Linked DNA regions of Homo sapiens. The protein of the gene in region 1 purifies or fractionates together with the protein of each later gene. This does not show direct contact. Each region holds a gene or a part of one and is shown in the gene's direction. Other genes may lie near its edges. The genes, in order: DSG1, ARMC9 and VRK3.

What was found.
Region 2: the proteins of DSG1 (region 1) and ARMC9 purify together in Homo sapiens (co-immunoprecipitation; one large-scale study listed by IntAct). This does not show direct contact.
Region 3: the proteins of DSG1 (region 1) and VRK3 purify together in Homo sapiens (co-immunoprecipitation; one large-scale study listed by IntAct). This does not show direct contact.

The regions. Positions count from the first base shown.
Region 1 is NC_000018.10:31,356,152-31,359,892, forward strand, and holds the end of DSG1 (desmoglein-1 preproprotein), read left to right. Parts: 3' UTR 1-3,095; downstream 3,096-3,741. UniProt on the Homo sapiens protein: Component of intercellular desmosome junctions. Involved in the interaction of plaque proteins and intermediate filaments mediating cell-cell adhesion.
Region 2 is NC_000002.12:231,271,592-231,275,245, forward strand, and holds part of ARMC9 (lisH domain-containing protein ARMC9), read left to right. Parts: intron 1-1,363; coding exon 1,364-1,487; intron 1,488-3,654. UniProt on the Homo sapiens protein: Involved in ciliogenesis. It is required for appropriate acetylation and polyglutamylation of ciliary microtubules, and regulation of cilium length. Acts as a positive regulator of hedgehog (Hh)signaling.
Region 3 is NC_000019.10:49,987,339-49,990,992, reverse strand, and holds part of VRK3 (serine/threonine-protein kinase VRK3), read left to right. Parts: intron 1-1,221; coding exon 1,222-1,354; intron 1,355-2,500; coding exon 2,501-2,621; intron 2,622-3,654. UniProt on the Homo sapiens protein: Plays a role in the regulation of the cell cycle by phosphorylating the nuclear envelope protein barrier-to-autointegration factor/BAF that is required for disassembly and reassembly, respectively, of the nuclear envelope during mitosis.

The DNA.
Region 1 (3,741 bases):
TGTGGTTTTGACTTAAGAAAGCAAAACTCACTAAGTTTACTTCTCGAATTGAAGCAAGTGAGGCCTGACATGGTTGTCATCACTAGTGGCAAATGACCTTCCAAGTAAGCAGATGGGAACTGAATTGTGTTTTCAGGTTTTGTTTTTAGTAGGTGATATTCATTCGTATCCAGCTCTTTATTACATAGCTCTGAAGTTAAAATGATTTACATAGGCCGAGCTGTGGACAAAAAAAAAAGAAGCAGCAGCTTGTAGTATGCTTAAGCTTTGGGGAATTTTTTTTTAAGGGGATCTAAAAAAATGTTTTTAGAACATGTAAAATGTTTAATGGTGAAAGTTGGAAAAGAATTCTTCTGTAAAGTAATACCATGCTAATTATTCGCTTTTAGTAAGTAAAGTAGTGGTTGCTTTAGCAAACCTCTGCTGCCATTTTGCAGGAATCAACCAGGAACCTTTAGCAGAATTGACAATATGGTGTTGATAAGCATGAAATAATAATAGAAACCTATTCTGCTAGTTTATCTCACCCTCTAATTTTTCTCACTAGCATAAATTTTAAATTCCTGATTTGATTTGTCAATAAGATCTTGGCTTATATATGCTGATTTATAGGTAGTGTCCAAATTATATAGTATAACATATTTTTCTAGTTTCAAAATTTAGTAATGTCCTATTTATGATATATCATTTCTGTGTGTTTGCTATGTAGTATTACCCAATTAAAAATCTCTAAAAAGAATTAAAGCATTCTAAGAAAAAGGTAAATTTACTATTGCATGGTACAGAAATTTTTTCTTTCTTAAATACAATGTTACTATAAGCTCACTAAAATGAAACTCTATATGACAAAATAAAATTAGAAAAAAATTTGCCCTGGAGTTGTGAATTATATACAACTTTTAAAGAATTTACCCCAATTACTCAAATTTCCCAGGAAATTACAAAGCCAAAGAATATTCAACTTCCTCCACTGGTCAAAAGAGGATAGGAGTGAATTACTGAACCTAGAGCTATTTTGCTCTGTAACAACAGATAAGGCTAATATTTTAAAAGCCACAGTATACATCTTCTTTTAACTCTGTAGAATATGTAAAATTTTGATAGTCTGTAGTATGCTAAATGCAGAAGTATAAATAAAGTCATTCAAAGGGAGTCTTTTCTTTTTCTGACACTTAGGGGGCCACATTAAGGATGGGTAATCTTTCCAGGAATAAAGTCAAAAGGTATTTATTAAGACATACTTGAGTATGCCTGGGTCCAGGAGTTTTAAGGAATAGAAATAAGTATTAATGAATTAATTAAGTAATTTATTAAAGGGAATGGTAGCTGACCACAGGAAACTTGCTTACTGTTTTGATATGAAATATCATCACAAGCTTTTCTTAAGACATCTGATATCTTCCAGAGATATTTTTTAGGTTGTCTTGCAAACAACAAAATCACTGTCTTTAATAACTGTTGCTGTCAAAATCCATTGGTTGTTAAGATCCCCCCAATTTAGTTACATCTGAACTCCTAAACACTGTTAAACGATGGGAAAAACAAGAAAAAACATGGCCATTTGAGTCATTGAGTCATCTATCTTTCTAGGAAGATACTTTCTAACCAAACTTTTCTTCCAGGATTGCAAATTGATGGGAAAAACAAGAAAAACTGAAGTATTAGTCACCTATCTTTCTGGGAAGATACTTTCCAACTAATTTTTTCTTCCAGGATTGCACACTGATTTTCCATTTAGTCCTAAATTTTAAAATTCCCTTTTCAAGACATCAACGATTTTAGTAGTTATTTAAAGGCATGTCATTTTTCAATGAAGAAGTTTTGGGCAGAACTTCATTCTTCTTCTTAGATGTTTACTCTAGATCATATACATCATGTCATAGACCAAGAAGAGATATGGAAATTATTTTATAAGTGAATACTATAATTAGGATTCAAGCTGAGTTTCAGATCAACTTGCTCTTAACAAAAGGAAAAAGAAATAGTAATTTAATACTATGTATGTATGGTTTGAAAACAAACCACAATGTTTATAAAATATCTATCTGACTGTCTAAAGAGGTAATCTTTAGGAGCAAAAATCAGTGTATTATAAATACTTTACCATTTAATATCAACCAAAATACCATCTCAAGCTAATTTTGACACTGAATTACAGATATATCTGCTACATATTATTTACTTCTAAGCATGTTGTCTGATGTAATTGCATTTGCACTGAAAAATTAAAAGAAAAAGTACATATTTAGGGTTATTTATATATCTTCATCTAGACATCTGTTCTACATTTGTGTATAAAGTTTTTAGCATCATAATTTTTATTCAAGAAAATGTTCTGACAAAATTTTAATTATATGTCTTCAAAAATTACATTTTTTACTCTAGTAAGTAGATGTTTTTAGTTATCTGGCAATTTATTTCTGAATTTATACCAATGTTTGATTGTCATGGTACAAAATATATGACACCCTTTAACTTTTGCTGGAGTTGAAAGGCATTATAATCTTTAGCATAAATGGCCATGACTATTTTGGAAAGACATTTAAGACCCAAAGCAAACTTTTAAAAGTATTTGCCACATTTTCCCATGCCTATTTCATAAATTCCAACTTTTTTTTTTACAATTTCTGGATTTTTAAGACCCATTTCACATTGCACTAGGATACAGCAGTCCACAGTAGAGTGCTACTCTCCTTGAAATCAAATCTGTCTTCCACTTCCGGATTATTCAATTTATGTTAGGACAAATCTTGACTAGATCAACCTGTTTTCCATCAGATAATTTTAAAACAATGTGTAATCTTGTTTGTCTACATTCTCTCCCCAGTTTAGCTGTATTTGAATTACTAAATGCTTTATCGTCAAACTGTACCTAGTCTAACTTATTTTTCTTTTGCTGTCGTTTTACAAGCATTTTAAAATTCTAATATTCATCTCTGGTGGTGTTTAACACAAGGTTCTCTTATTCAAGTTTCAATATAAAAGTTTTTGGATTATTTGGGTGCTAGTTTCTTGCTTGGTTATCTGTTCGTTTTTTTAAGTTGATTTGTAATTTCCAAAGAGTTATGCATACAGCAATAAAATTATTAATATGCCTCCCTTATCTTTTCTGAATTGTAAGCAAGGGGGAGGTTTTAGACTGTAAAACCAAAGTTATCAAATCTAGTTATTATCATCCTGTATTGGAGGAGATACAATTCTTTTATTTTCACAATGTTAAAATATGTTTTCATTCTCCATTTCCTAGCTATCTTTTTTTAATGTGTACTGAGGAACCTACTCTCTGGACCACTAATTATAGATGCTAGAGCCCAGCCTTGACCAGGTGGTTAGCCCCACAAATGAACAGATGATAAAAAGCTGCATTTTTAGTTCTTATTTAATACTTGTAGCATCTTTATACTTTTACCTTTCTTTCTTTCATACTCTGCATTTTTATTTTTGCCTACACCAGCATTTTATTTCTTTTAAAATGACTTTTCTTCTTTTTTGCCCTTTAAATCATACCCTTTCATCTTTACTGGGATGCATCTCCTTTTGTTCTCCAATGCCACTTCCAGACTATTATCAACTTCATCTTGCACAAAATCTTACCTCTTTCAGACTTGTATGATCCTTTCCCTCTCTTCTCTTCTTCATAATGTCTCTACTTTTAATGAAGGCTCCAATATCCTGGCCTAAAGTCTTTTGTGACTTTCTTAACTTCTGAGAGTGTTCATAGTAACTTAAACATCCACGTGG
Region 2 (3,654 bases), on another chromosome or scaffold:
TTATTTATTTGAGCTCTTTATAATGTGAATAAAGGGAGTTTTCAAATTATGAATATATGATACTCCAAAACTTTGTTCATTTGTTCATTCGTTCTTCCATCCATTTGGCAGACATTTATGATAAGCCAGGATGTGTTACTGAGGACCATTCATATAATAATACTGTTGAAACTTATGTCTGAAATTAACATCTTCCATATCCATTCAGAAGTCCACAACAGGCTAGGGACCATTCTGGGCTTATTACAGGGTCCCAGGTGTGGCTTCCTGCTTCTTCTCCAGGCCTTGTACAGAGAGTGTGTATGGAAGCATTCCTTGGCTGCCTCTGTTGTGAAGACTTAAGGGCTCATAACACACACATTACCCCTCATTTCTCTTTGTAGATCTGACTGTTGGGTTCAGGATTTCATGGAAAAAAAAGGACAATGCTCCCCACAAGAACACAGCAATGAATTATGTTTAGCTCACAAGAAGAGTGGTTTTTCTAGTCACCAGATATTTCATTGAATAAAACCAACGTTTAACGTTTAGAAGAAATATCTTTTAATAAGTTTTAATAAGTTTTGTGGGGGTTTTGTGTGTGTGTGTGTGTTTGGTTTTTTTTTTTTTTTTTTTTTTTGAGAGAGTCTCACTTTGTCAACCAGACTGGAGTACAGTGGCATGATCTCGGCTCACTGTAGCCTCAACCACCTGGGCTCAAGGAATACTCCTCGCGCCTCAGCCCCCCAATTAGCGGGATCAACAGGTGTGCATCATCATACCTGGCTAATGTTCCTTAGTTTTTATAGAGATGAGGTTACGCCCTGTTGCCCAGGCTGGTCTCCAACGCCTCGGCTCAAACAGTCTACCTGCCTCAGCCTCCCAAAGTGCTAGGGTTACAGGCGTGAGCCACCTTGCACAACCAGTAAGTGTTTGTTTGTTTGTTTGTTTGTTTGTTTGTTTTGAGATGGAGTCTCGCTCCGTCATTCAGGCTAGAGTGTGGTGGCACGATCTCAGGCTCACTGCAACCTGCCTCCTGGGGTCTAGCAATTCTCCTGCCTCAGCCTCCCGAGTAGCTGGGATTACAGGCATCTGCCACCACACCCAGCTAATTTTTGTATTTTTAATAGAGACGGGGTTTCACCATGTTGGCCAGGCTGGTCTCAAACTCCTGGCCTCAGGTGATCTGCCTGCCTTGGCTTCCCAAACTGCTAGGATTACAGGCGTGAGCCACCGCGCCCTGCCCAGTAAGTTTTTTAGAACATAAAATTACCCAAACTCTACTGTGTTATATGCAAAGTAAGTTTTCGTGGAAAGTGGTTTTGTAGCATACCAGATAAATTATTTCTGTCTTTCACCTGTTTCATCTCTGGTGTATTATCAGGTCGCCTCTACCTTGCCCAGAACACAAAGGTGCTGCAGATGCTGGAGGGAAGGCTGAAGGAGGAGGACAAGGATATCATCACCAGGGAGAATGTTCTTGGGGCCCTGCAGAAGTTCAGTCTCAGGTAACGACTGTGCAATAGGTCACGGTGTCTCCTGTGAGATCAGATTGAGTTAAAATTCCCATGGCAACCCAGGAGGCAGATGGTATTTTTCCACTACACTTTGGAGAGGTTGGATGACTTTCTAAGACAGAGCTAGAAAGCTTATCTGTAATCCACTAAACTATCCTGCGCAAGGCTGCTGGGGATGGAGGAAGACATTTTCAAAGCATCATTGGATTTTCCTAATGGACATTATCGAGTGCCAGCCATGCAGGATTGTGTCTCAGGGCATGTGCAGGGCTTAGAGACAGACACATGAATCAGACCTGATAGAGCCTCAGCCCTCAAGTTACTTCCAGTCCCCTGTGGGAGCTGCACACATGAATGCACATCCCAGCAGAGTGTCAAGGGCAGTTCTGTGGAAGTCAGGGTTAGGGCCTCCTGACCTTGTCCATGATCCCAGCAGCCCACCCCATGGGATCAGCCTAGACCGTCATGACTTGGAACCAATGGGGCCAGGCTAATTTCTGTATTTCTAGTAGAGACAGGATTTTACCATGTTGGCCAGTCTGGTCTCGAACTCCTGACCTCAGGTGATCCGCCCACCTCAGCCCCCCAAAGTGCTGGAATTACAGGCGTGAGTCACCGCACCCGGCCCCGTAGGTTCCTTTTTAGTTTACAGTTTTGTTGAGATGTATTTACACACCATAATATTCCCCCATATTAAGCATACAATTGAAGGATTTTTAGTGTATTTACAGAGTTGTGCAGTCATCACCACAATCCAGGTTTAGCACATTTCCATCACCACAAAAAGAAACCTCATACCCATTTACAGTCACTCCTCATTCCTACCCCCAGTCCCCGGTAGCCACAAATCTGCTTTCTGTCGATTGACTTGTACTGGACGTTTCATATAAATGGAATCATGTAGTGTGCACTCTTTTGTGACTGGCTTCTCTCACTTAGCATCGCGTTTGCAAGGTTTGTCCATGTAGCAGCATGTGTCAGGGCCTCATTCCTTTTGTGGCTGAATATGTACTCCATTATGGCTACATCATATTGTTTGTTTGTTTTTGAGATGGAGTCTCACTCTGTCACCCAGACTGGAGTGCAGTGGCGCAATCTTGGCTCACTGCAACCTCCGCCTCCCGGGTTCAACCAATTCTCCTGCCTCAAACTCCTGGGTAGCTGGGATTACAGGCGCACACCACCACACCCGGCTAATTTTTGTATTTTTAGTAGAGATGGGGTTTCACCATGCTGGTGAGTCTGGTCTCGAACTCCTAACCTTGTGATCCACCCGCCTCGGCCTCCCAAAGTGCTGGGATTACAGGTGTGAGCCACCGCGCCCGGCCTACACCACATTTTGTTTGTCCTTCAGTTGATTGGCATTTGAGTTGTTTGCATTTTTGGCCAATATGCATAATGCTGCCATGAATGCTTCAGCACAAGTCTTCGTGTGGACATATGTTTCTTTTTCTCGTGGATCGGCATCTAGGAGAGGAACTGTTGGGACATATGGTAATTTTTTCAGAGTTTTTATTCTCTCATGATCACCTCAAGTTCTCTTTGACTTTCTTGAGAACTCTAGTCCCTGGAGTCTTCAACTTTTTTCTGTCGGTCCTCTTCTGAACACACTTTCTTCCCATCAAATGTGGTTTACATTTGACTGACTCACAAATAACCAGAAGCCTACAAAGTGAAATGGTCTAAGCATGTGTGTTTTTAGTGGGGGAAGGGATAGGTATTTGTATCTACCATTTGCCAGCTCCCTGCCAATGAAAATTCTTTGTTCTAACTATATGAATCGAAAAGAACTGTAAGTGCTGCAGAGTCATTACTTCCTCAGAGCATACAAACACTTCATTTCTTTTTGTTTATAGAGAGAACTTTGCTCCATGTTGATCGCTTTGGGGAAGTTTTTAGAAATTCAATAACTATAGTTAAGTAACAGATACAAGATATGGTGAAAAAAATACTTCCTCCTGGTAATGCAAATGTTTACTGCCTGTTTATCTTTTCCTCTAAGTGTTAATTTAAGCTTTTTTGTTCTGTAAATGTGCTTAACCTTTTTGCAGTTTTCCAGAGTCTCTGCAATAAATGAAGAAGGTAGCTAGTTACCAAGAGAGCGCAGTCTTCACTGTATTCTAATAAGCCACCCTGATTGGGTCAGTGTAGTGTTTAA
Region 3 (3,654 bases), on another chromosome or scaffold:
AACATAGGGAACCTCATCTGTACAAAATAAAAAATAATAACCTATCCAGGTGTAGTGGCATACACATGTGGTTCCAGCTACTCAGGAGGCTGAGGTAGAAGGATCACCTGAGCCCAGGAGATGGAGACTGCAGTGAGCCATGATCATACCACTGCACTCCAACCTGCGTGACCCAGTGAGACCCTGTCTCAAAACTTAAAAAAAAAAAATTATTTTTTTAATGAACACCACAAACTGTAAACAGAAAAACAGGGAGCCGGGGAAGTGTATATAGGTCTTACATAGACAAAACCAACAGTTGTCCACTATCCATATGGTGGAATAAGATGCAGCCATTGAAAAGAAGACATGGACTGGGCACAGTGGCCAAGGCAGGAGGATCACTTGAACCCAGGGGTTCAAGACCAGCCTGGGCAACAGGGCAAAACCCCATCTTTACAAAAAATCGGCTGGGCATGGTGGTGCATGCCTGTAGTCCCAGCTACTCGGGAGGCTGAGGTGGGAGGATCACTGGAGCCTAGGAGGCTGCAGTGAGCCGTGATCGCGCCACTGCACTCCAGCCTGGGTGACAGAGTGAAACCCCATCTCAAAATAAATAAGTAGATATTTTTGAAAGAAGATTTGGTTAACTTTATGTATCAGGCAGAAAGCATTTAACTTTTGTTTTAAACTCAGTTAAGCCTTATAAGAACCCTTTGAGGTGGGGACTATTATTATCATCATTTTACAAATGGAGAAATCATAGCAGAGAGAACTGGTATAGCTTGCCCAAGGTTGTACCGCCACCAGCGGGCTGAGTTGGCATTTGAACCCAGGCCATCTGGCCCCAGAGTTAATGCCCAGAACCACTATTAAAGTGTAAAGTGCCGGTGCCCAACAGGAGGTCTGGTGTGAGGCCTCTGTGGAAAACAAGAGCCCCCTCCCCATCCACATATGTTTACCTGGTTATTTAAAAAAAAAAAAAAATTTTGGAATGATGCATACGAAACTGTTACTAGTGGTTATTTCTGGGCGATGGGTTTTAGGGGCTGGGAGGAAATATGGATGGCTGGTTTGGGTTCTTTTTACTTCACATCATTTTTACTATGAGCATGCCTTAGTTTTGTAAGTGAAAAATGCCATCTTTGGTAGAATGTTTGTTGTCACTTGCACCCACGATGGAAATCTCTGACTTCTACGCTCCTAACCTCCAATCTGTATGGCTTTTCCCTGTGTCCACAGGTGACTTTGGCAGGCTATGGCTTCGCCTTCCGCTATTGCCCAAGTGGCAAACACGTGGCCTACGTGGAAGGCAGCAGGAGCCCTCACGAGGGGGACCTTGAGTTCATTAGCATGGACCTGCACAAGGGATGCGGTACGAGGCCAGGGATGGGTTTGGGACCGCAGAGAGATGCTTCTTATACAAGGGCAGCTCTAGGAGTTCACAGCCAGAGACAGCAGGTGGCCAGACAGGAGAGGCACTAAGGGCGCCAGGACAGGGATTGGAACCACAGACAGCGTCCCGACCGCAAGGGAGGTGGGTGGGGTAGCGGTTCAGCACTAAGCATAGTGGGAGGCTGGGCACTGGGGAGCCTGAGTTCCAGAGGTTGGGGTTCAGGATCTGTTGTAGACTTGGAAGATGGGAGTTGCCTAGGAGTCATCCAGGAGGGGCTGTTGAGGAGGTGGTTGGCCACCACATCTGGAGTGTGGGAGGGAGATCTGGGCAGAGGCTCTGCAGTATCTCAGAAGTTATCAGCCGAAGCCCTGGGAGAGGATGGGATCATCCAGGGAAAGTGTACAGACTAGGAAGAGGGCCCAGGGCAGATTTCTTGAGCCCCTCTTTCTCACATCCCTTTATATCATGGCCGTCCACATGCCTGCCACATCCTCCCATCAGACTGAGCTCCCCCAGTACAGGGATGGCACCCCTGCCTCCAGCATCGGGTGGTGGAAGGCCAGCACGGACAAGTAGTGCTTGTCGAGTGCTTACACAAAGCGTTGTCTAAATTAAGCGTTGTCTTATGCTCAGGAAGCATAAGAAAAATAAACTGTCAGAGTCTCCCCCGCCCTCCCCCACTGAGGCTGGGTTTGGTACCCATCCTTCTGGGCTCCCGTGTGTTCTGTGTCCTTTGTCACTCAGGTAGTCGCACGCTATAGCTGTCTCCCCACTAGGCTGTCACGGGCTGGGACCCGACGAGATCCTGGTCTGGGTTTTCAGAAGTGAGCTGGGCCTGGCACACGGGTGCTGAGGCTTGATTGAATGAGTGCATGAATGAAAGAGGAGTGGATGAGGGTGACCTGGTAAAAGGGGCTGAGAGAATGGTTGAGTGAGAGAGAGAATGAGTCAGCTTCTGCCTACTCATGAAAGTGAATGAGCGGAGGAGACAGCCCATATGGCTGGAAGGCTGGGTGTATGAGTGTGTGGTTGAGTCAGTGAGAGAGAGGGGAAGGAAGGGGGGTGGACCCACCAGTGAGTGGAGCGTCCAGACTTGAGCTGCCACCTTTACTCCTCCTTCCCCAGGGCCCTCCCGCCGCAGCGACCTCCAGAGCCTGGGCTACTGCATGCTGAAGTGGCTCTACGGGTTTCTGCCATGGACAAATTGCCTTCCCAACACTGAGGACATCATGAAGCAAAAACAGAAGTGAGTCTAGGGGTCAGCAGAACCCCTGCAGGTGGTCAGCAGAACCCCTGCAGGTGGACAGAAGCCCAGAGCCCAACTGGGAGCAGGAGGGAAGGGGAGGTGGCATCCAGCAGAGCCCAAGTCCTCTGAGCCGCACAGGCATGTGCTGCAGTGTCCACACAGCAGGCGAGGCAGGTGTTCCGGAGCCACACTGCCTGGGCTCAGACTCTGGCACCACCACTGTGGGGTGTTAACGTCTGCGAGCCTCAGTGTCCTGCTCCATGAGATGGTCTCCTACTAGCTACTACCTTATGGGACTGCAAAGAGTTCAGGGAAGTCAGGTGCACACAGCACTTAGCACAGGGGCTGGCTCAGAGAAAATGCTCATTGTGGCCGGGCGCGGTGGCTCACGCCTGTAATCCCAGCACTTTGGGAGGCAGAGGCGGGCGGATCACGAGGTCAGGAGATCGAGACCATCCTGACTAACACAGTGAAACCCCGTCTCTACTAAAAATACAAAAAATTAGCCAGGCATGGTGGCGGGCGCCTGTAGTCCCAGCTACTTGGGAGGCTGAGGCAGGAGAATGGCGTGAACCTGGGAGTGGGAGCTTGCAGTGAGCCAAGATTGCACCACTGCACTCCAGCCTGGGCGACAGAGCGAGACTCCGTCTCAAAAAAAAAAAAAAAAAAAAGCTCATTGTGTGTGGGAAACTATGACTCATTCATCACAAACATGCAGGCAATCTGAGCAGGATAGGCCCAGGCCCTGCCTCAGCACTGGTAGCACCACCTATGCAGTGTCCACACTGCCAGATCAGTGCCTTCACCTCTGTGTAAACCACCAGGTCTTACCAGTGCTGGTTTAAACATTCAGCACCAAAGCCGGTGGACAGCGGAACATATGAGGAAGTTCTGGGGTGAGATTGAACACTAAGGGCATTGAGCAGCTGGACACAGAGGGAGCACTAGGGGTATGGGTTCAGCACTAGGGACAGCAGGCAGCTGGGCACAAAAGGGAGGCACTAAGGTGTGTGTTCAGCACCAAGAACAGCAG